4 linked regions of the Homo sapiens genome follow. The protein of the gene in region 3 interacts with the protein of the main gene of each other region in a biochemical or structural test. Each region holds a gene or a part of one and is shown on either strand. Other genes may lie near its edges. The genes, in order: TERT, TEP1, PTPA and F3.

What was found.
Region 1: of the proteins of PTPA (region 3) and TERT, one has a biochemical effect on the other in vitro, tested with the Homo sapiens proteins (one study listed by BioGRID).
Region 2: of the proteins of PTPA (region 3) and TEP1, one has a biochemical effect on the other in vitro, tested with the Homo sapiens proteins (one study listed by BioGRID).
Region 4: of the proteins of PTPA (region 3) and F3, one has a biochemical effect on the other in vitro, tested with the Homo sapiens proteins (one study listed by BioGRID).

Annotation. Positions count from the first base shown.
Region 1 is NC_000005.10:1,278,053-1,285,074, forward strand, and holds part of TERT (telomerase reverse transcriptase), read right to left. Parts: intron 4,573-7,022; coding exon 4,377-4,572; intron 2,287-4,376; coding exon 2,106-2,286; intron 1,419-2,105; coding exon 1,239-1,418; intron 745-1,238; coding exon 589-744; intron 1-588. UniProt on the Homo sapiens protein: Telomerase is a ribonucleoprotein enzyme essential for the replication of chromosome termini in most eukaryotes. Active in progenitor and cancer cells. Inactive, or very low activity, in normal somatic cells.
Region 2 is NC_000014.9:20,410,488-20,418,497, forward strand, and holds the start of TEP1 (telomerase protein component 1), read right to left. Parts: upstream 3,015-8,010; 5' UTR 2,918-3,014; exon of another isoform or gene 2,884-2,917; intron 1-2,883. UniProt on the Homo sapiens protein: Component of the telomerase ribonucleoprotein complex that is essential for the replication of chromosome termini. Also a component of the ribonucleoprotein vaults particle, a multi-subunit structure involved in nucleo-cytoplasmic transport.
Region 3 is NC_000009.12:129,128,415-129,135,436, reverse strand, and holds part of PTPA (serine/threonine-protein phosphatase 2A activator), read right to left. Parts: intron 6,453-7,022; coding exon 6,327-6,452; intron 3,916-6,326; coding exon 3,798-3,915; intron 643-3,797; coding exon 543-642; intron 1-542. UniProt on the Homo sapiens protein: PPIases accelerate the folding of proteins. It catalyzes the cis-trans isomerization of proline imidic peptide bonds in oligopeptides. Acts as a regulatory subunit for serine/threonine-protein phosphatase 2A (PP2A).
Region 4 is NC_000001.11:94,538,739-94,545,615, reverse strand, and holds the start of F3 (tissue factor isoform 1 precursor), read left to right. Parts: upstream 1-3,856; 5' UTR 3,857-3,979; coding exon 3,980-4,079; intron 4,080-5,247; coding exon 5,248-5,359; intron 5,360-6,877. UniProt on the Homo sapiens protein: Initiates blood coagulation by forming a complex with circulating factor VII or VIIa. The [TF:VIIa] complex activates factors IX or X by specific limited proteolysis.

The sequences.
Region 1 (7,022 bases), on a different chromosome or scaffold from region 3:
GACTGGGGTCCTGGGGGTGCCAGGGGTCCAGGAAGGTACCACCAGCATCCCTACTCTCCTCTCAAACCTGGCTTACAGTCTCCAAGGCCCAGCCCTGTGACAGGACAGGGGCACCCATGCTAGAAGTGAGGACCCTGAATGTGGAGCTCCCCAAACCAGCACCCGAGAGCGTGAGGACAATGGTGCGGACCATGCCTGGAGGAGGAAGGAGTAAGGCCAAGGGGCCACACACACCCATGCCATAGACACGCATATGTCACGGACACATGCACACACACACACCACAAATAGGCACATCACAGACATGCAGCACACAGCATGAACATGCACGTGTCACAGACACACACACATGCACACCACAGGCACACACACCATGGACACACACGTGCCACACACACACACACCACAAATATGCACGCCACAGATACATGCACCACGACACACACGTGCCACACACGCATATCACAGATGTGTAAATCATGGAAGTACCTCCACCACAGAAACGCATCACAGACACGACTGCATTCTAGACACATTCATATCCCAGAGACACACATCCTGGACACGACTATCACACGTGAACCTTACGTGGCTCTTGAAGGCCTTGCGGACGTGCCCATGGGCGGCCTTCTGGACCACGGCATACCGACGCACGCAGTACGTGTTCTGGGGTTTGATGATGCTGGCGATGACCTCCGTGAGCCTGTCCTGGGGGATGGTGTCGTACGCGCCCGTCACATCCACCTGTGTGAGTGGAGGCGAGGAGACTGACAGTGGCCACGCAGAAACTCAGACATCACCTCTGCCCTCAGGGCCTGGCCTGGCGGTGTCCCCCACTCTCTCTCTGACCCCCACCACTCCAGACCCCAAGGGCAGGGCGGGCTGTGTCCCCTCTCTGAGCCTCAGGACAGGAGACCCCTGGCTCAGGACTGGGGTGCAAGGCACCGGGGCCTGGTGGCTGAGCCGTTGCGGTTCCTTCTCTGACGGAAACTGGAATCCAGTGGGACCCTCCTTGGGAATAGGAGCCCGGGCAGTCAGGGTGCACAGTCGGCCCCATGTGCTGCAGGAAAGGCTGAAGGCCTCCACCCTAGGTGCCAGGTGTGTCCTCAACAGTGACAGGGTCACCTGCACTCCCTGCGGCCCACCCAGGAGTACCTCCTCCACCCAACATGAGGTGCCAATCAGGCAGCCACTCCCAAGGTCCAGCAGGGCTGCTCACGGGGGTCCCCGGCACCCACCTTGACAAAGTACAGCTCAGGCGGCGGGTCCTGGGCCCGCACACGCAGCACGAAGGTGCGCCAGGCCCTGTGGATATCGTCCAGGCCCAGCACAGAGGCGCCCAGGAGGCCGGGGCGCCGCGCCCGCTCGTAGTTGAGCACGCTGAACAGTGCCTTCACCCTCGAGGTGAGACGCTCGGCCTGGCGGGGACAGCATGGGAGACAGTCAGGAAAGTGGATCCGGCCAAGTGCCCACCCCACCATAGGGACCCAGGGGAGAAGCAGCCCCTCCCCAGTGTCCCCAGCCACCCAGACCCGGGACCTAGAACCCCTCCCAGCTTCCTCAGACCCTGTTTGAAACGGGTTCCTGGCCGCATGTGTGTTGCACACGGGATCCTCATGCCACACCTCTGTCCACCTCACCCCACACTCTCCTCAGATGACGGGGTCACCGCAGCCACCGCAGCCACAGGGGTGGGGTGCAGGAGCCGTGGGGCAAGGTCCAGGATCCTCAGAGCCCGGTGGGCTCCTGGCAGTCGTGGCCTGGTCCCCGGGCCCCGTAAGCGGAAGCGCACGGAGGCTGCGCACCACAGCAGGACACGGATCCAGGACCTCGGGCCGTGCTGCATCCAGGCCCTGGCCCGGCTGCTTCTTGTGGTCCTCAGAGCCTGTCCCTGCCCCAGGAGCTCCCCCTACACCCCCACGCTGCTTTTCTGGAGGCACCGGCACCTCGGCCACCTCACTGTGCGCACAAATGGGTTGGCGCCGTGCCATGGCCCTGGCTGTGTCCCGTGGCCCCTCCTCCGGGCCCTTCATCTAAGCTGATACCAAATGTGGGGCTCAAACGCACTTCTGTTTAAAAAGGAAGTTAAACCAAAGCACAGCCACCCTCTTTTCTCTGCGGAACGTTCTGGCTCCCACGACGTAGTCCATGTTCACAATCGGCCGCAGCCCGTCAGGCTTGGGGATGAAGCGGAGTCTGGACGTCAGCAGGGCGGGCCTGGCTTCCCGATGCTGCCTGACCTCTGCTTCCGACAGCTCCCGCAGCTGCACCCTCTTCAAGTGCTGTCTGCAATAGAGAGCCCCTCAGGAGGCTTGCTCAGCCAGACAACAGACTAGGGGGAAGCTCACGGGAAGCCACAAGCCCCCACCGACTCAGTGAGGGCTCAGGGCACCCACGGCAGCACACGCTGAAGGCCATGCCCGGGGCCACGTCCACCCATGCCAGCCAGACGCCTCTGAGAGCCCCTCTACTTGCAGGGCACCTGGACACCTGGTCCTATAGTCAACCCTGGGGACGCCCAGTCCGGCGGTCAACCCCCAGGGTGACTGTCCCACCATCAGCACCAGGGAGCCTGGTCCCAGGCTGCATCTGGGGCCACGTGAACCCATGCCCCTCCACACAGGATGCCTGTCCCTCTGGTACAGCCACTGGGGTAGCCCAAGGCTGGCCCCAGGCAGGACCCCCAGGTAGAAAGAGCCACATCCCTTCAGATGGAGAGGGCGGGAGAGGCTGCTCAGGGCAGCTCAGCCAAGGAGCAGAATCAGCTCTCATGAGCCCACCAGTCTCCTGACACCTCTGCCCTTTGGCCTTTTCCCCCAAAACCACCCATGGGGGCACGGGGGCTGGAGCGGCCACACCTGGACCTGGGCATCTGTGGCTGACAGCCTGGCACTCCGTGGACACTGGGGCCGCGGGTGCTCCGGAGCTGGTGCCCTGACCGCAGGCCGCAGGCCCAGCAGAGTAGAAAAGGCACGGTACCCTGTCCAGGGAGGAGGGGCCTCCAAGGCCCCCCAGGCAGAACAACAGTCCCAGTAGTGACAAGGAGCATCTTGGGGACCACCACGTCTGTCTGCTCCTTCCGGTCACCCCAATTAAATTCTTTCCAAAATACTGGTCAAATGACCATGTTGGGTCGCACACCATTAAATACGTGTAAAGTCTAAGTAAGGTGCATTGTGTATTAACTTGTTCCCACAGGGAAAGCCCTGACCCTCCCCCAGATGCAAGGAAATGGCCCCAGCACCACGTCGGGGTCCCCAGCCCAGAGGCTGTGTTACCTCTGACGAGGTCTGCTGCCAGCTCCCTCTGCAGACATCCTGATTTGGGGCATGGGGTGTCACAAGGCCCCCCAGGGACTCGAGTGTGCAGGGGAGCTGGGGAAGCCCTGATCTTCTGACTAAAGCCCTCCACAGTCAGCCTGGGCGGGACACGGAGAAGCTAATACCATGGCCTGGGCTCAGCCAGGCTGGCATCTCCCAGACCAGCGCTCCCGTCCCTCACTGATGCAAATCCAGCTTGAATCTGTCACAATCTCACACTCTCATCAGCCGAACATTGCAGACAAAATCTCACAGCCATTCAAATGCAGCCACCTAGAAGTTAGCTCATGGTGGAACTCTCCTATCCCCAGGTGCTCCCTGCACAGGTGCTCCCTGCAGTGAGTCGCCAAGTGGGTGGGATTTTATCCTCTCATGACCTAAATCCAATAGATTGAAGATTCATACAGAACAGCATGAATTAAAAGAGAATCGGGGGCTGGGCACGGTGGCTTAGCCTGTAAACCCAGCACTTTGGGAGGCCAAGGTGGGTGGATCACCTGAGGTCATGAGTTCGAGACCAGCCTGGCCAACATGGTGAAACCCCGTCTCTCCTAAAAGTACAAAAATTAGCCAGGCGTGGTGGCAGGTGCCTGTAATCCCAGCTACTTAGGAGGCTGAGGCTGGTGAATCGCTTAAACCCAGGAGGTGGAGGTTGCAGTGAGCCAAGATTATGCCACTGCACTCCAGCCTGGGCAACAGAGTGAGACTCCATCTCAAAAAAGAAAAAAAAAAGAGAGAGAGAATCAGACCCACATCCCAGGGAAAGGCAAGGAGGCTAGTGGTAGTGTTTCCATCTAATTTAAATCCCTTCTGCTTTACAAACCCTAGAGACCACTTGGCACAAACTCCTGATTTTACAAGTAAGAGAACGTGAGCTCCAGGCAGTCAGAGCCTTGCACAGAATCCACTTGGACCAGGCCTGTGACGGGGCCCCTGGCTCCCAGCCCAGAGCTGCACAGCCAGGGAAGCACAGGCAAGTGGAGACAGGCGCATGCTGAGGCCGGGCTGGTGTTCCAGGACTTCGAGAAGCAGAGGCCTGGCGTGGGGATACAGTACCTGATTCCAATGCTTTGCAACTTGCTCCAGACACTCTTCCGGTAGAAAAAGAGCCTGTTCTTTTGAAACGTGGTCTCCGTGACATAAAAGAAAGACCTGAGCAGCTCGACGACGTACACACTCATCAGCCAGTGCAGGAACTTGGCCAGGATCTCCTCACGCAGACGGTGCTCTGCGGCCGGAACACAGCCAACCCCTTAAACGAGAAGGACATGCCACATCCAGATCACCGAGGGCCTGGTGACCTCACCCCGGACCTGCACCATCCGGACACCGCACATCCAGCTCACCAAGGGCCTGGCGACCTCACCCCAGACCTGCACCATCCGGACACGGCACATCCAGCCCACCAAGGGCCTGGCGACCTCACCCTGGACCTGCACCATTCGGACACGGGGACACCGCATATCCAGCTCACCGAGGGCCTGGCGAACTCACCCCGGACCTGCAGCATCCAGACACCACACATCCAGCTCACCGCAGGGCCTGGCGAACTCACCCCGGACCTGCACCATCCAGACAACACACATACAGCCCACCGCAGGGCCTGGCGACCTCACTCCGGACCTGCACCATCCGTACACTGCACATCCAGCTCACCGCAGGGCCTGGCGACCTCACGCCAGACCTGCACCATCCGGATACAGCACATCCAGCTCACCGCAGGGCCTGGCGACCTCACCCCGGACCTGCACCATCCGGATACAGCACATCCAGCTCACAGCAGGGCCTGGCGACCTCACCCCAGACCTGCACCATCCGGACACCACACATCCAGCTAACCGCAGGGCCTGGTGACCTCACCCCGGACCTGCACCATCCGACACCGCATATCCAGCTAACCGCAGGGCCTGGCGACCTCACGCCAGACCTGCACCATCCGGATACAGCACATCCAGCTCACTGCAGGGCCTGGCGACCTCACCCCGGACCTGCACCATCTGGATACAGCACATCCAGCTCACAGCAGGGCCTGGCGACCTCACCCCGGACCTGCACCATCCAGACACCGCACATCCAGCTAACCGCAGGGCCTGGTGACCTCACCCCGGACCTGCACCATCCGGACACCGCATATCCAGCTAACCGCAGGGCCTGGCGACCTCACCCCGGACCTGCACCATCCGGACACCCCACATCCAGCTCACCGAAGGCCTTGGCTACCTCACCCCGGACCTGCACCATCCAGACACCGCACATCCAGCTCACAGCAGGGCCTGGCGACCTCACGCCGGACCTGCACCATCCGGACACCACACATCCAGCCCACCAAGGGCCTGGCGACCTCACCCCAGACATGCACCATGCAGACACCGCACATCCAGCTCACCAAAGGCCTGGCGACCTCACCCCAGACCTGCACCATCCGGACACGGCACATCCAGCCCACCAAGGGCCTAGCGACCTCACCCTGGACCTGCACCATCCGGACACGGGGACACCGCACATCCAGCTCACCGAGGGCCTGGCGAACTCACCCCGGACCTGCAGCAACCGGACACTGCACAACCAGCTCACCGCAGGGCCTGGTGACCTCACCCCAGACCTGCACCATCCGGATACAGCACATCCAGCTCACAGCAGGGCCTGGCGACCTCACCCCGGACCTGCACCATCCGGATACAGCACATCCAGCTCACAGCAGGGCCTGGCAACCTCACCCCGGACCTGCATCATCCGGACTCCATACCTCCAGCTCACCGAGGGCCTGGCGACCACACCCCAGACCTGCACCATCCAGACGCCGCACATCCAGCTCACAGCAGGGCCTGGCGACCTCACCCCGGACCTGCATCATCCGGACTCCATACCTCCAGCTCACCGAGGGCCTGGCGACCACACCCCAGACCTGCACCATCCAGACGCCGCACATCCAGCTCACAGCAGGGCCTGGCGACCTCACCCCGGACCTGCATCATCCGGACTCCATACCTCCAGCTCACCGAGGGCCTGGAGACCTCACCCCTGACCTGCACCATCCGGACACCGCATATCCAGCTCACAGCAGGGTCTGGCGACCTCACCCCGGACCGGCACCATCCGGACTCCATACATCCAGCTCACCGAGGGCCTGGCGACCTCACTCCAGACCTGCACCATCCAGACACCGCACATCCAGCTCACCGCAGGGTCTGGCGACCTCACCCCGGACCTGCACCATCTGGACACTGCACATCCAGCTCACCGAGGGCCTGGCGACCTCACTCCAGACCTGCACCATCCAGACACCACACATCCAGCTCACAGCAGGGCCTGGCGACCTCACCCCAGACCTGCACCATCCAGACACCACACATCCAGCTCACAGCAGGGCCTGGTGACCTCACACCGGACCTGCAGCATCCGGACACCCCACATCCAACTCACAGCAGGGCCTGGCAACCTCACCCCAGACCTGCACCATCCGGACACCGCATATCCAGCTCACCGCACGGTCTGGCACCGTCTGGCGACCTCACTCCAGACCTGCACCATCCAGACACCGCACACCCAGCTCACCGCAGGGCCTGGTGACCTCACCCCAGACCTGCACCATCCAGACACCACACATCCAGCTCACAGCAGGGCCTGGCGACCTCACCCCGGACCTGCATCATCCGGACTCCATACCTCCAGCTCACCGAGGGCCTGGAGACCTCACCCCTG
Region 2 (8,010 bases), on a different chromosome or scaffold from region 3:
TCTTGGCTCACTGCAACCTCCGCCTCCCAGGTTCAATCCATTCTCCTGCCTCAGCCTCCCGAGTAGCTGGAATTACAGGCGCCCGCCACTATGCCCAGCTGATTTTTTTTTCTTTTTTTTTTTTTGTATTTTTAGTAAGAGACAGGGTTCCACTATGCTGGCCAGGCTGGTCTCGAACTCCTGACCTTGTGATCCACCCACCTTGGCCTCCCAAAGTGCTGGGATTACAGGTGTGAGCCACTGTGCCTGGCGGACTCCTTTTTTTTTAAGCATGTTTGCTTATTAGCCCACTTGCTAATTGTTTCTCCTTTGTGGTTTTTTTTTTTTTTTTTTTTTTTTTGCTTTTTGTTTTTTGAAACGGAGTCTCACTCTATTGCTGGCTGGAGTGCAGTCGCACAGTCTCAGCTCACTGCAACCTCGACTTCCCGGGTTCAAGTAATTCTCCTGCCTCAGCCCCCCAAGTAGCTGGGATTACAAGTGCCTGCCACCACACCCAGCTAATTTTTGTATTTGTAGTAGAGACAGGGTTTCACCATGTTCATCAGGATGGTCTCAATCTCCCGACCTCATGATCCACCCACCTCAGCCTCCCAAAGTGCTAGGATTACAGGCGTGAGCCACCGCACCCAGCCTAATTGTTTCTCTTTACTGAAATACAACTCCTTAAGGTAAGGGCTCCTTTGTCTTGCTCCCCTCTGCATCTTCAGCATCATACACAAAACCCGACTTCCGGTCACCTCCCAGCATCATCTCTCACTAACACCCCGATCTAACCCTCAGCACTCTAAGCTTCAATCATACAAATTTTATTTAGCTTATTAATTGCCAAGGTATCTCTTGACTACGGGCCTGTGCACAGGCAGATCCCTGGAACACTCTTTCTTCTACCAATACCACCCCTCCTTTACAAGGCCAAATGCTACTTTCCTCTCACTCTACAGACTTCAGTTTCATCAACTCCTCCAAAAAGCCTGTGCTGACACCAAGCCCCAGTCTGATTTAGGTGGCCTTCTCCTTGTTTTCACAACACCCATATGTCCCCTATCATAGAGCACATCACCTGTTTGTCTTTCTTCCCAATAGACCATTAAGTTCCTGAGGAGAGAGACCCTTTTAGCCTTGTTCCCACAATTGCTGGTCAGCGGGATTCAGAGGCTTTTGAGAATCTGGTAAAAGCTATGGAGCTTTTTCACAGAAAAAAAAAAAGTATATACTGTTTTGTGCTCAATTTTCAGAGTGTCTATGAAGCCCATTTATGGACCTCCCAGGATCTCCATAAACTGAAAATTAGAAACCTCTGCCTAACAGAATGCTTGAATTATACCATCAGGAACCTATTTTCTGGCTGGGTGTGGTGGCTCACACCTGTAATCCTAGCATTTTGGGAGGCTGAGGTGGGAGAATCACTTGAGGTCAGGAGTTCAAGACCAGCCTGGGCAACATAGTGAGACCTCTATTTAAAAAAAAAAAGGAATGTATTTTCTTACTTATTTGGACAAAGGCTAATCTCTCATTCATATGTAAATATTTTGGGAATAATATTGTTAAGTCAACCACCTAAACTTAGTGTGAAAAAGCTTAGGGACAAAAGTACAGAACACTTCCAAGAAGACCTGAATGACTAACAATCCAGGGCCAAAAAGGACAACAATATCTCACTGGACGTCAGTGTGACAAACACGTAAAAAATGATGGCTTCTGTGCCCAATACACTTTGCTCATGTCGTTGCCCTATATAAGCCCCCAAGGAAAGGAGTGGGGAAACTCAGAATTGACTCAGATTTTTTTTAAAAGAGATCTCAAGCCAAAAATAAACAGAAAAATAAGGACAGTTTATTTGAGCAACATAGTGAGACTGTCCTATCCTTAAAAGGACAGTCTCACTATTTTGCTCATTTTATTGTTTTGCACCCTGGAGTTTTTGAAAGGAGATTCGGCTGAACCACAAATGGAAAGTTAAAGTTCCGTCCCCACTTCCATCTCTAGTTCCCTTCTCTGGAAGTAAACATTGCTCACAGTTTTATACTAACAGTTTCACAGTTTCTATGCATATGCAAATACATGCCTTCACCATCACCACTGCTTTTGCTTTTGCTTTACACAAACAGGATCATAAGTTAGATGCTATTCTGCACTTAGTATATCTCAGAGACCTTGCCCTGTTAACACATTAATACCCACCTCACTCTTTCCTTTTTTTTTTTTTTTTTTTTTTGAGGCGGAGTCTGGCTCTGTTGTTCAGCTCACTGCAATCTCTGCCTGCCGAGTTCAAGCGATTCTCCTGCCTTAGCCTTCCGAGTAACTGGGATTACAGGCGCCCACCACCATGCCCGGCTAATTTTTTTGTATTTTCAGTAGAGAGGGTTTTCACCATGTTGGTCAGGCTGGTCTCAAACTCCTGACCTCAGGTGATCCCCAACCTCCGCCTCCCAAAGTGCTGGGATTACAGGCGTGAACCACCGCGCCCGGCCTCCACCTCACTCTTCAAGTGGCTGTATGGTAGTCTAGCACATTTAAGCACAGTCTGGGTTTCTATTATCACAAACGGTTCTCATACTACCATTTGTTGGTGACAGCCACTGTCCCCTTTCGATGGGCACACAGGGCAAGGAAGTAAGAGGGGATGATTCTTACGTGGTCTCTCTTCCTGTCCCTCCCTCTCCTTCAGCCTTCTCCTCCTCCTTTCTCACCTCCCCTTTCACGCAGTATACACTCCCTCCCCTTCCCGGAGCCGCCGGGAGGAGCAGGGTGGATGCACCCCTAGCTGAGTCTCGGGTGGTTCCTAACCGGCCCCGCCAGGCACTTCCCACCCAGCTCTCAGCCTCAGAGCCCAGCGCCCTAGACCCAGGGCCAGGGCAAGTTCTGCCTGCGCTCGGACCCTACCTTAGACTGGGGCTGGAAACCCTGGGTGCCTGACCTGGGGCGTCCGATTCCCGCAGCAGGAAGCAGAAACTTCGCTCTGGATTCTGCCGGTGGGAAGGGTGGCAGCCGGGGGAGGAGCCGGATGCGGATCTGAGAAGAGACGGTGCGGGCGGAGACTCTCGGGCCCGGGCGGGGCGCAGCAGCTGCTGGAAGGGCAGCGAGCCGAGGGCCGGGCAAGACGACATGCCAGGGCTGCGACGCGAATGCCCAGGACCCCTGCCGCCTTTTCTGGGGCCCGAGTTTAGTTTGTTATTGTTTCTATTTTTTTTCCCTTTCTGGTCCTATTTTCTCCTGTCCCTAGGGCTTCCCCCTCTACCAAATTCGTCTCCTCTGGCTAATTTTCGTCTTTTTTTCTCCCATTAACTCTTCAAACACCGTTTCCTGGAAAAGATTTTAGCATGCTCGCTGCCTAGCTGTACACCTCTCCTTCCTAATATCAAAGACGGTCAGACTCAATTCATCCTAAAGTTCCTTTGAGGAACTCCTTAAAAGGAGACGGAAAGCGGAAAGCAACCGCCTGTAACCAAGTGTAGACATCAGTCAATCAAAGTTCGCTGAACTGAGAGCAAGTGCCTCCCCTCCTGTTGATCAGAAGAGAGATCCGTGGATCACACAGAATCTATCTGGAGCCATCCTGAATGATTAATGCTGAACCCTTTCCAGGAAGATGGAACCAGGCTTAGGAAAGAGACAAGTGACCCTTAGGTTAATAATCCTAGCTTCATAAAGAGAGGACCAAACATAGTAGCAGGAGAAATATGCTTTCTGCCTTTATATAAAGCAGATTAGCTGTCTTCTGGAAAATATCATTGCTTTCCTTAGAGAGGTACCCTTGAGTCTCAGGTAACAGCTGAGCTTCCGCTCAGAATTGAGGGCATTCTGTCCTCTATTAACTGAGCCAGTACCCCTTTCCTTCCTTAGAAACCTCTATTGCCACCAGTCCCAACACTCCCTGCAATGGTCTTTATGTTTGTGTCTCCCCAAAATTTATATATTGAAACCCTAATCCCAATGCGATGGTATTTAGGGTGGGATCTCTGGGAGGTCATTAGGTCATGGAGTTTAGAATACTCATAAATGGGATTGGTGGCCTCATAAGGAGAGACGGAAGAGCTAGCTAGCTCTTTTTCCACGATATGAGGATACAAGAAAACAGCCATCTGCAATCCCAAGGAAGACCCTCATCTTCAGAGGCAGACCATGCTGGCAATCTGATCTTGGACTTCCATTCTCTAGAACTGTGAGAAATAATATTTGTTGTTTAAGCCACCCGGTCTACGGTAATTTGTTATAGCAACCTGAACTAAAACATTTCCTTTTTATAACAAATATTTTAAAGCTCTTTTTATTTTTCTGAAACATAATTCGTAAAGAATGTAACTTACCCCCACGCACAATTTTAAACCAAAATTTAAAGACAAAAAGTAGAGACAGGGTTTTGCTATGTTGCCCAGGCTCTCTACCTCCAGGGCTCAAATAGTCCTCCTACCTTGGCCTCCCAAAGTGCTTGGATTACAGGCATAAGCCACCATGCCTGGCCAAAAAATTAGTAAAATCTCTTAAAGAGATATAAAGGAGTCTACGGCCATACCACCCCGAACGCGCCCGATCTCCTCTGATCTTGGAAGCTGAGCAGGGTTGGGCTTGGTTAGTACTTGGATGGGAGATAAAAGGAATACTAGAAAGAATATGACTTATAATTAAATACTATATGTTTAGATATGTAAATGTTTGTGTATAACATTCAAGAAGACACAATGTGGTACTCAGATATATGCATCTGTATATAAAATCACCTGGAATGTAACAGCTACAAATGCAGAATGATACAGGCATTATAATGGCGATTCAAATACCATGAACAGAATTACTGATGTGGTATGATTTTCCAGAATACTAAATAGCTTTTGGCAGATTTTCAAACAAAACAAGGTATGATCATCCCATGATTTTCATGGTAGTTGCATCCCTGGAAAGTTCAGTGTGTATTAAAACTACGCATAAAATGCCTTGTGTTTATATTTAAAATTAAATTATGGTCAGGCACGGTGGCTCACGCCTGTAATCCCAGCACTTTGGGAGGCCAAGGTGGGCAGATTACCTGAGGTCAGGAGTTTGAGACCAGCCTGGCCAACATGGTGAAACCTTGTCTCCACCAAAAATACAAAAATTAGCCGGGCATGGTGGTGGCCGCCTGTAATCCCAGCTACTTGGGAGACTGAGGCAGGAGAATGGCTTGAACCCAGGAGGTGGAGGTTGCAGGGAGCCGAGACCACACCACTGCACTCCAGCCTGGGTGACAAGAGCAAAACTCCGACTCAAAAAAAAAATAAAAAAATTAAGTTAGATCCTAATTAAAACAAGTTTTCAGCTACATGAATGACTGGCAAGTTATTCAAAGTTAAAGATGCGGAAATGTCACTCATTGTGTGGTAGTGTCCTAAACAGTTCCTGAATGTTGAGCTATCCTGGGCCCTACCCATTTAAATGTGTAAAATCATCCTAATTATTGTGAAAGCCAAAAACACCCCCTAGAGGGCAGTACCACTCACATCGAAAACCTTCATTAGTGGTCTGTTTAGAGGAGAAAGAGAGGAGTTTGGTGAGGGAACACAAGAGCTAGGAAACCTGAAAGAAAGGGTTACGTGAGGTGACTACAGTGGGAGCATATTGAGGAGAAGGAAGTGAGGGGAGGGATTGAAGGAGTCCACACAGGGCCTTTCTTCTGAAGGCCAGCTTTATAAGGCCTCTTCCCCATAGAATATGCCTTAGATAATAATCCCAACCTCAAGACCTCGTAGTCTGTGACTCTCTGTGGGAAACACCTGCCCCACCAGTGAAAGAACAGCATATGCAAGCCCTTCCATCATATTCCCATAAATATCAGACCTGAGAAGACTGGCAATACAGGAGGGAAGGCAATTGGTGATGGCTTCCTGATTGGCTTTGAGGATCTAGTTTTACTTTCTGGTTTCCTGAAGCAGCAAAGAGATTCAAGGCCAGCAAGGCTTGTACACTGGAACTACCTGGAGATCTTTTAAAAATTCCAAAGTCCAGGCCACACCCCAGACCAATTAAATCGCAATCACCCAGAGTAGGACCCAGGCATCAGTAGTTTTTGAAGTTTCCTAGGTGCTATGGTCTGAATATGTCCCCCAAAATTCATGTTGAAACTCAATCTGCGATGTGATAATATTAAGGGTTGGGGTCTTTAGGAGGGATTAAGTCGTGAGAGCAGAGCCCTTATGAATGGAGTTTGCAGCCTTATAAAAGGGCTAGAAGAAACCAGCAATCACTCCTTTGTTTGCCCTTCCACCTTCTGCCATGAGAAGATGCAGCAAGAAGGTATGTTCTCACCAGACACCAAATGCTAGTGCCTTGATCTTGGACTTCCCCAGCCTCCAGAATTATGAGAAATAAATTTCTATTATCTATAAAATTACCCAGTCTCAGGTATTTTGGTATAGCAGCACCAGTGGATGGAGACATCAGGTGATACTAATGTGCAGAAAAGTTTAGGAACCTCTGCTCGAGGGTCTCACTAATCAAAGTATGGGATTGTGGACCACAACATCAACATCACCTTGTTAGAAATGCAGACTCTCAGGCTCTACCCCAGATCTACTGAATCAGAATCTTTTAACAATATTTTCAGGTTATTCCCACTCACATTAAAGTTTGAGAAACACTGATCCAGACAAGTGGGGTGGAACCTGAGAATCTATATTTCCAAACACTGTGGTCAGGGCCCAGTGATTTGTATTTTAACAAGCTGTCCGGTTGGTTTTGGTACATGCTTAAATTTAAGAACCCCTGATTAGGCAGGGTGTGGTGGCTCATGCCTATAATCCCAGCACTTTGGGAGGCTAAGCGGGCAGATCACTTGAGCTCAGGAGTTTGAGACCAGCCTGGGCAACATGGTGAAACCCTGTCTCTATAAAAGATGCCAAAAAAAAAAAAAAAAATTAGCTAGGCATGGTGGCCCACACCTGTAGTCCTTGCTACTTCTGGAGCTGAGGCAGGAGGATTGCTTAAGTCCAGGAAGTCGAGGCGGCAGTGAGCTGTGTTCGTGCCCTGGCAACCTGGGTGACAAAGCAAGACCCTGTCTCAAAAAAAAAAAAAAGCTCTGATTAAAACGAAGATTGTTGCTCATCTCTTTTGAAAATTTCTGATTCAGTAGGTAGGTCTGAGATGGAACCTGAGAATTTGCACTTCCAGCAATTTCTCAGGTAATCATGACTCTTATCTCTGATCTGAGGTAAACATTTAAAAAACTATTAATCTAGGATGATTACCTAAACAGAAGCGATAGTTACTACCTACCACATGGCAGAGGTAGGTAGTAAATAATGCACCTGTCACACTTGAATTGCATATATAAATTAAAAATTTGGCCCAATTCCCAGATGTTCTGTTCCAATCACACAGCCACTGAATGATCCCTAAAGGACATTTCAGCTGTGTTTTGAGGAGCCAGATAAACTATCTCTGCCTTGCAACAGAGAAAACCTTTCAACTGGCAAGATGTTCACAATGTTCAAATTCAGCTTTTCATACCCGTAGGAAGTGCTAATCATATTGCCAATATTTGCTTCTTTGAGTCATGCTTTCCTAAGTTAGCCATTCCCTTGAGTTGAACCAATCTTTCTTCAGATGACTATCATTAGAATAAATCAGGAGTTTTGCCAATCAAATAACTATACCAGGGCTGGGAAGATGTGCCATTTCCCACTGGAATGAAATCACTTAACTCTCACAGAACCATCTTACATTCCTTATTTGCAAGTTCTTAAAGGACCATTCACTTTCTCCTGCATATAGGCCAACACCACCTTACTGTTGATTAGTAGCATTGAGCTGCGATGGCCAACTGATGGGTGTAATATCCAGATTTGTCTCTGGGACAAAGGAGTGCCACCCCCTCAGTCTTCCCTTTTGGGAAGGGTCCTACCACCTGTTAAAATTGCTCACTTGTGGTCAGTTTTCTTGCATGTTCATTGTCCTCCTCTACTTTGATCAACAAACATCTGCTAATCCCCTGTCAAAGAATAGTGCTAGTACATGGGTAAAATGTATACAACATGCCTT
Region 3 (7,022 bases):
GTGTCAATACTGGCAGACATTATGTGACAATTCTTTTTTTTTTTAAGACAGAGTCTCACTCTGTCACCCAGGCTGGAGTACAGTGGCACGATCTCAGCTCACTGCAACCTCCGCCTCCTGGGTTCAAGCAATTCTTCTGCCTCAGCCTCCTGAGTAGCTGGAATTACAGGCGAGTGCCACCACGCCCAGCTAATTCTTGTATTTTTAGTAGAGACGGGGTTTCATCATGTTGGCCAGGCTGGTGTCGAACACCTGACCTCGTGATCCGCCTGCCTGGGCCTCCCAAAGTCCTGGGATTACAGGCGTGAGCCACCGCGCCCGGCCTATGTGACAATTCTTTCACTTGCTTTTACTTGGAGGTTAATTTGAACCTGTTGGAAAAAAGGCTTGGACACTCCATCCACAGCCAGAGCTTGATTAGGACAGGACAAGAGAACCATGAGCTACTCAGGAGAACCCTAGAGCACCCCATTTCCCAGTTTGAGGAGGAAACAGATGGCCCCTCACGCCCCCTCCTCCAACCCTCCTGTCCTTTCTCTCACCGATTGAACACCTTGAAGACAATAGCTATTTGGTCATCCACCCGGAGCACCCCAATCTTGCAGAGACAGCAGAGGAAAGCAGCGAAGGCTGCCTCATGCCCTGGAGGAGAAAAACAACCAGCGTTGACAGTAGTCCAGGTAAAGGACTGGGATTGTTTTAGTCTCCCAGAATCCGAATCATTGATAAGTGCCCCTCTGAGGAGGGTGGTCAACATGGAGACAATGAGACCTCTTCCCCATTCAGAAAGACTTGCTAGGCCCTTTCCTTTCAAGAACTATAATACCAGTACTGGCCGTGCATGGTGGCTCATGCCTGTAATCCCAGCACTTCAGGAGGCTGAGGCAGGCAGCTTGCTTGAGCTCAGGAGTTTGAGATCAGCCTGGCCAACATGGCAAAACCCTGTCTCTACAAAAAATACAAAAATTAGCCAGACATGGTGGCATGTGCCTGTGGTCCCAACTACTCAGGAGGCTGAGATGGAGGATCTCCTGAGCCCAGGAGGTTGAGGCTGCAGTGAGCCATGATAAGGCCACTGCACTCCAGCCTGGGTGACAAAGTGAGACTGTCTCAAAAAAAAAAAAAAAAAAAAAAAAAAAAGAACTACCAGTACTATAATTCCACTCGTAAAAGACCCGGGCTGGACATTTACATTTCATTACGTAGGTTTAACTCACTCAGCAATTCCACCATATTTACTGAGCACCTACTATGTAAGCAGTCACTGTCCATGTTACGCACTAGGAGACAGTGACAAGTAAGTCCTTGCCCTCAGAAAGTTTATGATCTATCAGGGACAACAGACATTATAAATATACAGTCACTACTATGATTCCAGCTCTGAAGGAGAAAGACAGGGTACTAACTGGAGGATATCACAGAAGGACCCTGACGTAAGGGTTCAAGGTTTCCCCTAAGGAAGTAACATCTAATCTGAAATCTGAAAGATGTGAGCTGGCAAGGCAAAGGGAGTGAGGGAAGCAAGAAATGCATTCTAGCCAGAAGGAATAGCATGTGCACAGGCCTTGAGGCAAGAAAAAGTTTGATCTGTTTGAGGAACACTAAGGAGGCCAGTATGTCGAAGGCAGTGAGAGCAAGGGAGAACGTGTAATGACAGGAGGCTACAGGTCACATGGGCCTTTTGGCCATAGGAAAGAGCTCAGACTTTACCCTAAGAGCAATAGGGAGCCACTGCAGGCTTCTAAGCAGGGAACACATGATCAGATTACAGGGTGAAAAAGTATCCTCCTTCCTTTCCCAGTCATATCAAACAGGAATGGTCTGCACTGTAGGAACAACTCACTGGACTGTGATTGAATCCCATTGTTCACAATGTCACACAAAACCTATCTGGAGGGAGGTGAGAAGAGAATGTGTCAGAGAATACTTCTGTCCTGTCTCTGGAGGACGAAGACCCCTCCAGGGCCTGGAAGCTTGTGAGCTCAGTTTCCTTCCCCTGCCACAGTTTCCAATTATGACCAGACAGGGCCCAGGCTCCCATTGTTCAGGGGTTCACATGCAGCTGGGGCACCAACCCCTGCTGACCTGGCCAGTCTTCCCTCTTTGATCTTTTCCTGCTGGTCTTAGTCAAAGCCCCACCCGGTCCAAGAGGGCCCTTCTCCAGGGCCTGCCTCTGTGGCTGGGGCTCCCTCCTGTGGATCACATTCCCCAGACAAGGGGAGGGCTGAGCGGTGCCCCATCTGCCTGCCTCAGGGAAGGAAGGCGGGCCCTCACCAAAGCAGAGGTCCTCCTTAGCTGCACAGGCCAGGCCCTGACCTAGAGAACGCCTCCCTTCTCTATTTTTGAGAGATGGGGTCTCAGCATGGTGGCTCGACAGGCCGTGCCCTGACACAGAGAATGCCTCCCTTCTATATTTTTGAGAGATGGGGTCTCAGCATGGTGGCTCCACAGGCCATGCCCTGACCTAGAGAACACCTCCCTTTTATATTTTTGAGAGATGGGGTCTCAGCATGGTGGCTTGCACCTGTAATCTGAGCACTTTGGGAGGCTGAGGTGGGAGAACAGCTTGAGCTCAGGAGTTCAAGACCAGCCCAGGCAACATGGCAAAACCCCATCTCTACAAAAAATACAAAACAATCAGCTGGGCGCAGTGGCTCACGCCTGTAATCCCAGTCCCAGCACTTTGGGAGGCCAAGGTGGGTGGAGAAGTGACCTCACCAGAGGTCAGGAGTTCGAGACCAGCCTGGCCAACATGGTGAAACCCTGTCTCTACCAAAAACACTAAAATTAGCCAGGTATGGTGGTGTGTGCCTATAGTCCCAGCAGAATAATCGCTTGAACCCAGGAGGTGGAGGTTGCAGTGAGCCAAGATCATGCCACTGCACTCCAGCCTGGGCAACAGAGTGAGACTCTGTCTCAAATAAATAAATAAATTGCCAGGCTGGTGGTGCACACCTGTAGTCCCAGGTACTGGGGAGTGGGGAGATGCAGAGGTGAGAGGATCACTTGGGCCCGGGAGGTCAAGGCTGCAGTGGGCCAAGATCACATCACTGCACTGCAGCCCGGGTGACAAAGCAAGACCCTGTCTCAAAAAAATAAATATATAAATAAAAATAACTTAAAATAAATTTTTAAAAAAGAGATGGAGTCTTGCTACGTTGCCTAGGCTGGTCTTAAACTCCTGAGCTCAGGCAATCCTCCCCCTCAGCCTCCAAAAGTGCTAGGATTACAGGCACGCACCACTGCACCTGTCTACACTTCCCTTTTAAAGTGTCCACACACTCCCTCTCCTCAAAGTCCAGGTCCCTTGGCTTACATGGACCACAGATCCAAACAGCCCAATAGCACAGAGAATGTGGCTAAGAGACAAGGGGTTCAAGGGAGAGGGTGTGCCACGACACTGCAAAGGCCACCAAGAAGCGTTCCCATTTCTCAAAGCTTCAGTAAGCTGCTGCCTTGACACACAGTAAGTGCTCAATTAATAATTATTTTGGTGATGATGAGGAGCTCAGAGACCATTTTCACAAGAACAGAAAGCAGCGCTGCGCAAGCACCATGCACGGGGCATCAGCTCCCCCTGGTGGACCACAGCAGAGCTGCAGCATCCGGGCCTCCCTGCATGCCTACGCCCTCCCTGCCGGTGAAGCCACCCTAACCCCAGCTGGCCCCAATAGGTTGCAGGTGCTTGGCGAATTCTTGATTGCTCTCACTTGCTCAGAGGGCCCAGAGACCACCTGAAGCCCAAAACAGAAAGCAGTGAAGCTAGATAAGTACAGAGCCCCACAAGCAGCAGATACCTGTGCCGTAGTCAATGCGCGTGGAGTTCCCCACTGACTCCTTTAGGTAAACAGCCACCTCAGGCACAGCAGCTGCCAGATGGGTAGGGACCACTGTGGCCACCAAGTTTTCTGCTTCCTGGTAACACAAGAGACACAAAGTGGTGGCAGCATATTAAGCAGCATCCCAGTGGGCAGGTGCCCAGGGGCAGCACCTGACTGGGGGCCCACACTGCCTTGCCAGGCCAGCTTGGTTCCTGTTCTGACAGGCCACAGAAGGAAGGGGAGGGACAGCATTTATTCTTCCACAGCAGAAGACTACCCAGGCGACTTATCATCAACTGATTTTTCCAGGGCACAGGAGTCTAGGGGCAAAACAGGAGGAATCTGGAAAAAAGCCTCAACCCTCCCATGTGGTAACTCACTGGAGCCCCACAGAGACTCTGGAAGGTCAGTGCTATGATTCCCACACAGGCCACCTTCCTTCACACTCTCAGGTCAGCAAGAGCTGGTGTCATGTGCCATCAAAAGACGTGCAGAAGAATGTTCACAACAGCACTGTTTAGAGTAGCCAAAAGGTGGAAATGCAATGGAAATGTCCATCAACAGTGAAATGAATAAATTGTGGTATATTCATACAATAGAATACTACACAGCAAAGAAAAAGACCTATAGCTAGACATGAAAACATGGATGAATCTCAGACATGACATTGAGCAAAAGAAGCCAGAGAGTTATACGAAGTTCAGAAACATGGAAAAAAATCAATTTATGGAATAGAAATCAGAATAATCTGGGCGATATCAATTGGGAAGGGGAGCACTCCAGCTAGAATGTTCTATTGCTTGACATGAGTGGTGAATCCATGGGTAAAAAACTTGGCATGAGTGGTGAGTCCATGAGTAAAAACATGTAAAAATCCATCAAGCTGTAAAGCTATGATTTGTCAGCTTTAAGATATAACTTAAGGCTGGGAGCAGTGGCTCACACCTGTAATTCCAACACTTTAGGAGGCCAAGGTGGGCGGATCACCTGAGGCCAGGATTTCGAGATCAGCCTGGCCAACATGATGAAACCCCGTCTCTACTAAAAACACAAAAATTAGCCAAGCATGGTGGCGCATGCTGTAGTCCCAGCAACTTGGGAGGCTGAGGCAGGACGATTGCTTGAGCCCAGGAGGTCAAGGCTGCAGGGAGCTGAGATCATGCCACTGCACTCCAGCCTGAACAACAGGAAAAAAAAAAAAAAAAGATCATGTACCATCTTAAGAGTCCAGAGGCAGGCCCGGGCGTCTCTTGGGAACAGCACTTCACTGGGTCCTGAGTCCTCCCCTCTGCTCTATGTGAAAATATTGGGCCAGAGCAATTAGGACCCAAATTTCCTTAAGCTCAGTTGTAGACAACTGGCATGAGCCATCTCCTGGAAAGCTAGTAAAAATCCAGGTTCCCAGTCCCTACCCAGACCTGTAGACTCTGCTTTTCTAGACAGGGTCTGAGATCCTGCATTTTTATTTTTGTTTGCTTTGAATAGGTAACACCTTCGTAAGATTCAAAAATAAAAACATCAGTAGAGGATCAGTTCAATAGACTAGTCCATCCACACCATGGAGTATGCAGCTAGCATTCCAAGTGGGTGTGCAATGGCTCCATCATAGCTCACTGCAGCCTCAAACTCCAGAGCTCAAGTCATTCTCCTGCTTCAGCCACCCAAGCAGCTGGGACCAAAGGTGTGCACCACCATTTCTTATTTTTTGCAGTAACGGGGTCTTGCTATGTTGCCCAACCTACTCACAAACTCCTGGGCTCAAGTGATCCTCCCGCCTTAACCTCCCCGAATTCTGAGATTACATGTATGAGCCACCGTGCCCAGCTATGAAAAAAATTCCTTTTTGGGGCCGAGCGTGGTGGCTCACACCTGTAATCCCAGCACTTTGGGAGGCCGAGATGGGCGGATCACAAGGTCAGGAGATCAAGACCATCCTGGCTAACACGGTGAAACCCCGTCTCTACGAAAAATACAAAAAATTAGCCGGGCGTGGTGGTGGGTGCCTGTAGTCCCAGCTACTCGGAAGGCTGAGGCAGGAGAATGGCGTGAACCCAGGAGGTGGAGCTTGCAGTGAGCCAAGACTGCGCCACTGCACTCCAGCCTGGGCAACACAGCGAGACTCCGTCTAAAAAAAAAAAAAGATAAAATAAAAAATAAAAAAAATTCCTTTTTATAGCTGCACAGTACTCCATGATATTGATGGACTAATTTATTTAAATAATCCCCTACAGATGGATACTTGGAACATTTCCAGTTTGCTGTAATACAGTGACTTAATAAACAGCCTTGTAGTGCAGAGGGCCGTATGTGCACAGTCGTGTTTCCCAGAAGATGACCAAGCAGAGTATAAACTCATTTGTAATTTTGCTAAGTGAAATTGACATTTTAACAAACTGAGATTTGTATATGCCTAGAAGCGCTATACAATGCAGGCCCTTCCCCAACTGGTGCCAGAACCACCCTCACTGCCAGCCCAGTCCCTGGCCTGTCCTGTGGCAGCCTCACCTCATCAAGTTTGGCATACCAGGTCCTGTATGCCTTATTCCCAAACCGAGAGGGCTGGTCCACTGGAGGAGTCTCATCAATCCACCTGTCCAGCGTGTTGAGAAGAGCGACTAGTTTCTCAATGGCCTGTGGAGGCAAAATAGAGGGGTCCAAGCTACAGAGCAAGTGGCTCCCGCTTAGCCACAGAGGGAAGTCCACTGCTGCCAGACAATGACCCCTTGGCATGGCCCCTACTGGGAACTCTCCCCCATCCCTCTTTCTTCCCCACTGTTCTGAATATGAAGGAGGGTCAGGAGAGCATGATAGGCTTTCCAGAGAGGGAAGCACACTAGGCTGATGGGACAGGGACGGGGTGGCTTTAGCACCTGGTTTCTGTAGGCAGCCTACCCATGGGCTGCTGCTATAGAGAAGCTAACTCCAGCCCTGACATCTTTTTAAAAAGACTTTATGGAAGCCTTTTGTTCAGTATGCAATACCTACTCATCATAAAAAATAGAAATATAAACAGAAGAAAATGAAAATGACCAGTAATCCTGCCACCCAGAAATACACTAAACTTTTTTTTTTTTTTTTTGAGACAGAGTTTCGCTCTTGTTGCCCAGGCTGGAGTGCAGTGGTGCAATCTCGGCTCACTGCAACCTTTGCCTCCCAGGTTCAAGCGATTCTCCTGCCTCAGCCTCCCAAGTAGCTGGGACT
Region 4 (6,877 bases), on a different chromosome or scaffold from region 3:
ACGTTTATAAAAATAGATGTCTGCTGAAAATACCAATCCCAGTCTAAGACTTGAATTGGAAGGTTTTTCTCTAAAGTTACATTTTTCAGAATACTGGTGCTATGTGATAACTCATTTAGCAAAGCTTCTTGTAAGCTGTTCTAGACAGTTGATAGAAGTATTTTGAATGACCAGGATAATAGATTTTATCATACTGACTTTCAACTGTTTAATTTTGGTCTAAATGAACTGTTGGACTAGTATATTGCTATTTTCACAAAATGCATAATCATGACTGCCAATTTTTCCATGACTAACTATACCCAGCCAGATGTTTCTTAGGTTCTGCTGAGTCACTTTTTTCCTTTTCCTCCAGAACTCTGTGTTCCTACTAACTCCTAATTCCCTCTGGCCTTTTCTCATACTTTGCCTTTTACCTGAATTTTGGGTAATGGTTTCATTGCTCTTTTTACCATTTCATATGCATAAAATAAGTTTCTCTGAATTATTCTCAATTTTACTTGCTATCATGTATCTTAACCTATCTCTTTCCTGGGAAATAAACATTTTGAGGAATTTGTTTTAAAAAGTTATTCAGCCTCTGTATGCAAGGAAAACTATCAACAACCTCATCGCATGATGAAGTATATTCTGAATCATCGTAGAATCCAGTCTTTTAAAAAAATGCTAGCTAGTTTCCAAACTTCTGTATCTGGTTTCTGCTTCTCAGCTATCTCTCCTCCTGGTGAGATTTTCTGGTGGTGCAGAGATAGCTAATCACTGGTTAGACTGCTAGAACTTGCGGTCGAGTGGTGCCTTTCCAGTCATGATGGATTTGTATTTTCTTACCAATCTCAGCATCATGAAACACTCACTGCCTGGCCCCTAGAAAGAGTTTTCAGTGACAGATTTCATCTCTTGAACACCAGTGAAATATTTGGTTGCACTCATAGTTTTATAAAGTATTCATTGACTCAAAAGGTATTAAGTGCCTATTATGTGCTGATAATTGTGGAAAGGGTTGAGAGAGGAAAAAAACAGACAAAAAACCCAATCCAACAGGAAAGATTAACAGGTAAACACACAAGTGAGATTAAGTGAAGTTCTCAATGAAAATGAGTCGGTAAAATTGGCAGCAAGTACTATAAAAGTACAGTGGAAGGGCTGAAACATCTCCGCAGTTATTTTCAGACTTCTCATCAACCACATTTCATCACTGGTTATGCAAAGGGAATTCAAACTCTTCTACGTGTCTCCTTGTCTGTCTATTTCAAGGACTAACCATCAGGATATTTCTGCCTAAGAACAATGAGTTCCCCAAACTGCAAAGTATTTTCTATACTTTGTGTGCAGTTTTTGTGCAGTTTTGCACTTTTCTGCACTTTGTGTACATGCAGAACATTTTTGAGTGCTTATGGATGGATTAATTAATCATTCATTTGATGGATTTACCACCCAGTCTTACTTTCCTTCATTGGGAGTAGGAGAAAGCCTGGTGATGGAAGGAAAGCCCCCGGGGTCAGAAGACCAGATCTGCACTGTGTGGTTAGGCAAGCCAGTTTACTCAGATCAGCTGGCCACAGGGTTCTCATCCATAAAAGAATGTCTGTGAGGTTCTCCCATCCTCTGACATCCTAAAATCCAATGAGAAAGGGACTGGTCAAGCCAGAGAGATTATTGTTATAGTTTAGTAACTTTTTGAACTTCTCAGAGCCTCCAAGATAGATCATGGAGGAGGGAACTGTTAACTGCTAAGCTTGACTTTACTGACAGGAGTAAAAAAAATTGTGTTAAGGTTAGGGAATAATTTTAACAGTCAATTTGTTCTTGTGAACAAATTTCAACAGTGAAATTTTAGATATGTACTTTTTAATGGTGCCAAGCAGCAGTTATTATAGATCAACTGCTGTTTGGCACCATTAAAAAGTACACTTCGCACCGTCAAAAAGTAGATCTGGCCACAATTAGATCAGTCAGGGAAAAACACTTCGCAATGAAATATTATTTACCACGTTTTCTTCCTCCCTCTTCTTGAAAATAGTAATGATTTTAGCATTTTTAAATCTTGAAGAATGTCATTCCGTACTGACTAAAAAGCCTGTGCAAACACCCAACATCTTCTCTTTCCTGTCTATTTTAATGGATATACAAAATAAATATTCATCTAATTTATCAATATTTAAGGCACATTGTGTATCACAATCCAATGGTAAACATTTTTCTTATCAAATGGCTGATCTTGACATTGTTTAAAGCCCTATATGATTTCAGAAAAGTCAGTGACTCCAAGTGGAATTGCAACAATTTCTTGGGTCTTGTAACAAACCTGAAGTGTAACTATTTCTCTTCAGCTACCTTCAATCCCAGAGAGCAAAGAATCACATCCCAGGTGGAGCTGAAGATCTCTTAGGGAAAATGACTCAGGCTAGAGCCTGCATAAAAAGAGGATTGCATGGCTTAGTTTTGCAAACATAAATTTTGTGGGTTTCAGAGCTGGCAGAGAGCTCAAAGAGGAAATCATCAAGGGCAACTTTCTGCTTCGAGGAAGGAAAGTCTACAAGGGCTAAACCTGGATGTGCTATTTCAGTTCAGGCAAAGGAGGAAAATTAAAATTTTGCACAGTTTTATTCTGTTAAAACAAGTGGTTCAGTAAGCTAAACGAGATATGTATATAGTATGCATTAAAATGCAAGACTGACTTCCCTGGGAAAACGTGGGAAAGAAGGAGAGAGGAAACAAACAATTCTTACACTAAGAATTCTCCAGTCGTGTCTTGCAGGCAATATAGAGTAATAATAATAAAAATGACAGGAGATACTTTGACAGGATGGCTTAAAATGCCACTCAATAGATGAAGAGTTGTTCTCATGCTTGGCAAGTTTACAGCAAAGCCCAGAAGGAGAAGCCAGAAAATAATTTAGAAAAACCAAAGCTTAAAACTAGTGGCACACAACTCTGGTTACATTTTTCATTTTCATTTTTGGTTCCTCTGCATTTCGGTGGAACTCAGTCCCACAGATGTCTTCTTCAATGTGGGAACCATCCTTTCTGGAACCACAGAGCTGCAGATGTCACGCTGGAATTCTCCCAGAGGCAAACTGCCAGATGTGAGGCTGCTCTTCCTCAGTCACTATCTCTGGTCGTACCGGGCGATGCCTGAGCCAACTGACCCTCAGACCTGTGAGCCGAGCCGGTCACACCGTGGCTGACACCGGCATTCCCACCGCCTTTCTCCTGTGCGACCCGCTAAGGGCCCCGCGAGGTGGGCAGGCCAGGTATTCTTGACCTTCGTGGGGTAGAAGAAGCCACCGTGGCTGGGAGAGGGCCCTGCTCACAGCCACACGTTTACTTCGCTGCAGGTCCCGAGCTTCTGCCCCAGGTGGGCAAAGCATCCGGGAAATGCCCTCCGCTGCCCGAGGGGAGCCCAGAGCCCGTGCTTTCTATTAAATGTTGTAAATGCCGCCTCTCCCACTTTATCACCAAATGGAAGGGAAGAATTCTTCCAAGGCGCCCTCCCTTTCCTGCCATAGACCTGCAACCCACCTAAGCTGCACGTCGGAGTCGCGGGCCTGGGTGAATCCGGGGGCCTTGGGGGACCCGGGCAACTAGACCCGCCTGCGTCCTCCAGGGCAGCTCCGCGCTCGGTGGCGCGGTTGAATCACTGGGGTGAGTCATCCCTTGCAGGGTCCCGGAGTTTCCTACCGGGAGGAGGCGGGGCAGGGGTGTGGACTCGCCGGGGGCCGCCCACCGCGACGGCAAGTGACCCGGGCCGGGGGCGGGGAGTCGGGAGGAGCGGCGGGGGCGGGCGCCGGGGGCGGGCAGAGGCGCGGGAGAGCGCGCCGCCGGCCCTTTATAGCGCGCGGGGCACCGGCTCCCCAAGACTGCGAGCTCCCCGCACCCCCTCGCACTCCCTCTGGCCGGCCCAGGGCGCCTTCAGCCCAACCTCCCCAGCCCCACGGGCGCCACGGAACCCGCTCGATCTCGCCGCCAACTGGTAGACATGGAGACCCCTGCCTGGCCCCGGGTCCCGCGCCCCGAGACCGCCGTCGCTCGGACGCTCCTGCTCGGCTGGGTCTTCGCCCAGGTGGCCGGCGCTTCAGGTGAGTGGCACCAGCCCCTGGAAGCCCGGGGCGCGCCACACGCAGGAGGGAGGCGACAGTCCTGGCTGGCAGCGGGCTCGCCCTGGTTCCCCGGGGCGCCCATGTTGTCCCCCGCGCCTACGGGACTCGGCTGCGCTCACCCAGCCCGGCTTGAATGAACCGAGTCCGTCGGGCGCCGGCGGGAGTTGCAGGGAGGGAGTTGGCGCCCCAGACCCCGCTGCCCCTTCCGCTGGAGAGTTTTGCTCGGGGTGTCCGAGTAATTGGACTGTTGTTGCATAAGCGGACTTTTAGCTCCCGCTTTAACTCTGGGGAAAGGGCTTCCCAGTGAGTTGCGACCTTCAATATGATAGGACTTGTGCCTGCGTCTGCACGTGTTGGCGTGCAGAGGTTTGGATATTATCTTTCATTATATGTGCATCTTCCCTTAATAAAGAGCGTCCCTGGTCTTTTCCTGGCCATCTTTGTTCTAGGTTTGGGTAGAGGCAATCCAAAAGGGCTGGATTGCTGCTTAGATTGGAGCAGGTACAACGTTGTGCATGCCCCGTATTTCTACGAGGTGTTCGGGACGGCGTAGAGACTGGGACCTGCTGCGTACTGGCAAAGCAGACCTTCATAAGAAATAATCCTGATCCAATACAGCCGACGGTGTGACAGGCCACACGTCCCCGTGGGTCTCTGTGGAAGTTTCAGTGTAGCGACATTTCAGATAAAAGTGGAAAAAGTGAAGTTTGGCTTTTTTCATTTGTATGCAGTCCTAACTCTTGTCACACGTGTGGGATTTATCTTTTTCCATAACTTACTGAAAACCCTTCCTGGCGGGCTGAACCTGACTCTTCCTGAGCTGAGTCCTGGACTGGCACACTGATGGCTCTGGGCTCTTCCCGGTCAAGTTATAACAAGGCTTTGCCCATGAATAATTTCAAACGAAAATGTCAAGATCCTTGCCGGTGTCCTGGGATTACAAGGTGAATCTTGTCATGAAGAAATTCTAGGTCTAGAAAAAATTTGAAGATTCTTTTTCTCTTGATAATTCACTAATGAAGCTTTTGTGGTTGAAAAATAAAAAGTGAGGTTTATGGTGATGTCAGGTGGGAAGGTGTTTTATACATCAATACATTCGAGTGCTCTGAAGTGCATGTAATAATAGCTGTTTCTCTGTTGTTTAAAGGCACTACAAATACTGTGGCAGCATATAATTTAACTTGGAAATCAACTAATTTCAAGACAATTTTGGAGTGGGAACCCAAACCCGTCAATCAAGTCTACACTGTTCAAATAAGGTAAGCTGGGTACAGAAAAAGAAAATTAAGGTCTTTGATGTTTCTACTGTCCTATGCTGAACAAGAATGTCTTTAAAGCTGATTACTGGATGAAATTATTTAACAGATGACGAAGAAGAAGGGATTCTTGGCAATTCGCTGGCCGGTGTCATACTCTATTAGGCCTGCAACATTTCCAGACCTTAAACTGATAGAACATTTTAATTGTTTTAATTGTTTTTGGAAATGATGGGAGAGTTCCTAAGTGGAGTATAAACTGTGGAGAGATGAACCATCTTGAGTAGGCACTGAAGTGTGCTTTGGGTCATGATAGATTAATTAATCTCATCTAAACATTGATGTCTTTTTCTGTTGCTGTCTAGACTGTGAACAATGTCTAACACCTTAGGGAAGAGGTGGGGAGGAATCCCAATGTATACATTGCCCTTAAGCAGTGTTTGATTCATTCATCTTTGGACTCCATGAATCGAAATCTGGTAGAATACATGATCTTAGTGGAGGAGGCCAAATGCGTGACTCACTGAGCCTGGCAGAGCAGAAATACTCTGCTGTCTGCACCCTCTGGGTCTGGTGTGGCTCTGCTTCTTGGTGCCTCAACTCTGACTGGCAGCTGTCCCCAGGAGGCGATAATTCAGCATGTTCAATCTAAAGGTTATGACTTCCTTGATGGTTTTCACCATATTCTTGGCAAGTTTTTGGTTTTTGAAATGTTCTAGGAGGCTTGGTAGAGATCTTATGAAATAGAGAATAGCTGCTGTGGAAATTATTTTAATGCTAATTACATAAAAGTACAAAAGTAGCACTAGCTAAAACAAAAGGTATTTTGCTGTTCTGTTTTGTTTTAGCTTGTGCCAGGCCTTTTACAGCATTAGGAATGCAACTTCTAGATAACGATGCATCTTTTAAGTGAATGTTCTTGTTTTTCAAAATGAACTTCATGACAGTAGTTGCCAAACCAGCAAGGAGAACTTGCATGCATACGTGCATGCATGTGTGGATATGTATGGGGGTGGGGGGAGAGAAAGATGAAGGAATTTCATAACATGAAATAATGATTACAGTTCTGGTCAAACTTGTCAATTCAGATTTCACCAATTGAGAATTAGTAAGTAATTTCTCTGATACAGGCCTGAAGTTTACCTTAGTAAACACTTTACTTCCATATGGTAAAAATTAGATTTTGGGAGGAATGCTTACCTCCTAAATATATTCAATCTAATATTTGAGGGACACATGGGAATATATTTATGATTCATCTGCTTTTTAAACATAAGCCTTTGTTAACTGTAAGTTCTTGAACTTTATAAGGCTGCTGTTATTTAAATGAGCACAGCTCCTGATCTGCAAACAGCAGAGCGCAGGGCTACAGCTTGGGGGATGCCAGCCGACTCAGGGTGGTCCTATGGACTGAACAATCTCTTGCTGCTGTACTGGAGGGCCTGGGAGCTTTTCCATCAGCCTCGGCCTGAGGTGTGCACTCTTCTCCTGCCCACCCCAGGAATAAATGAGATTCCTGGT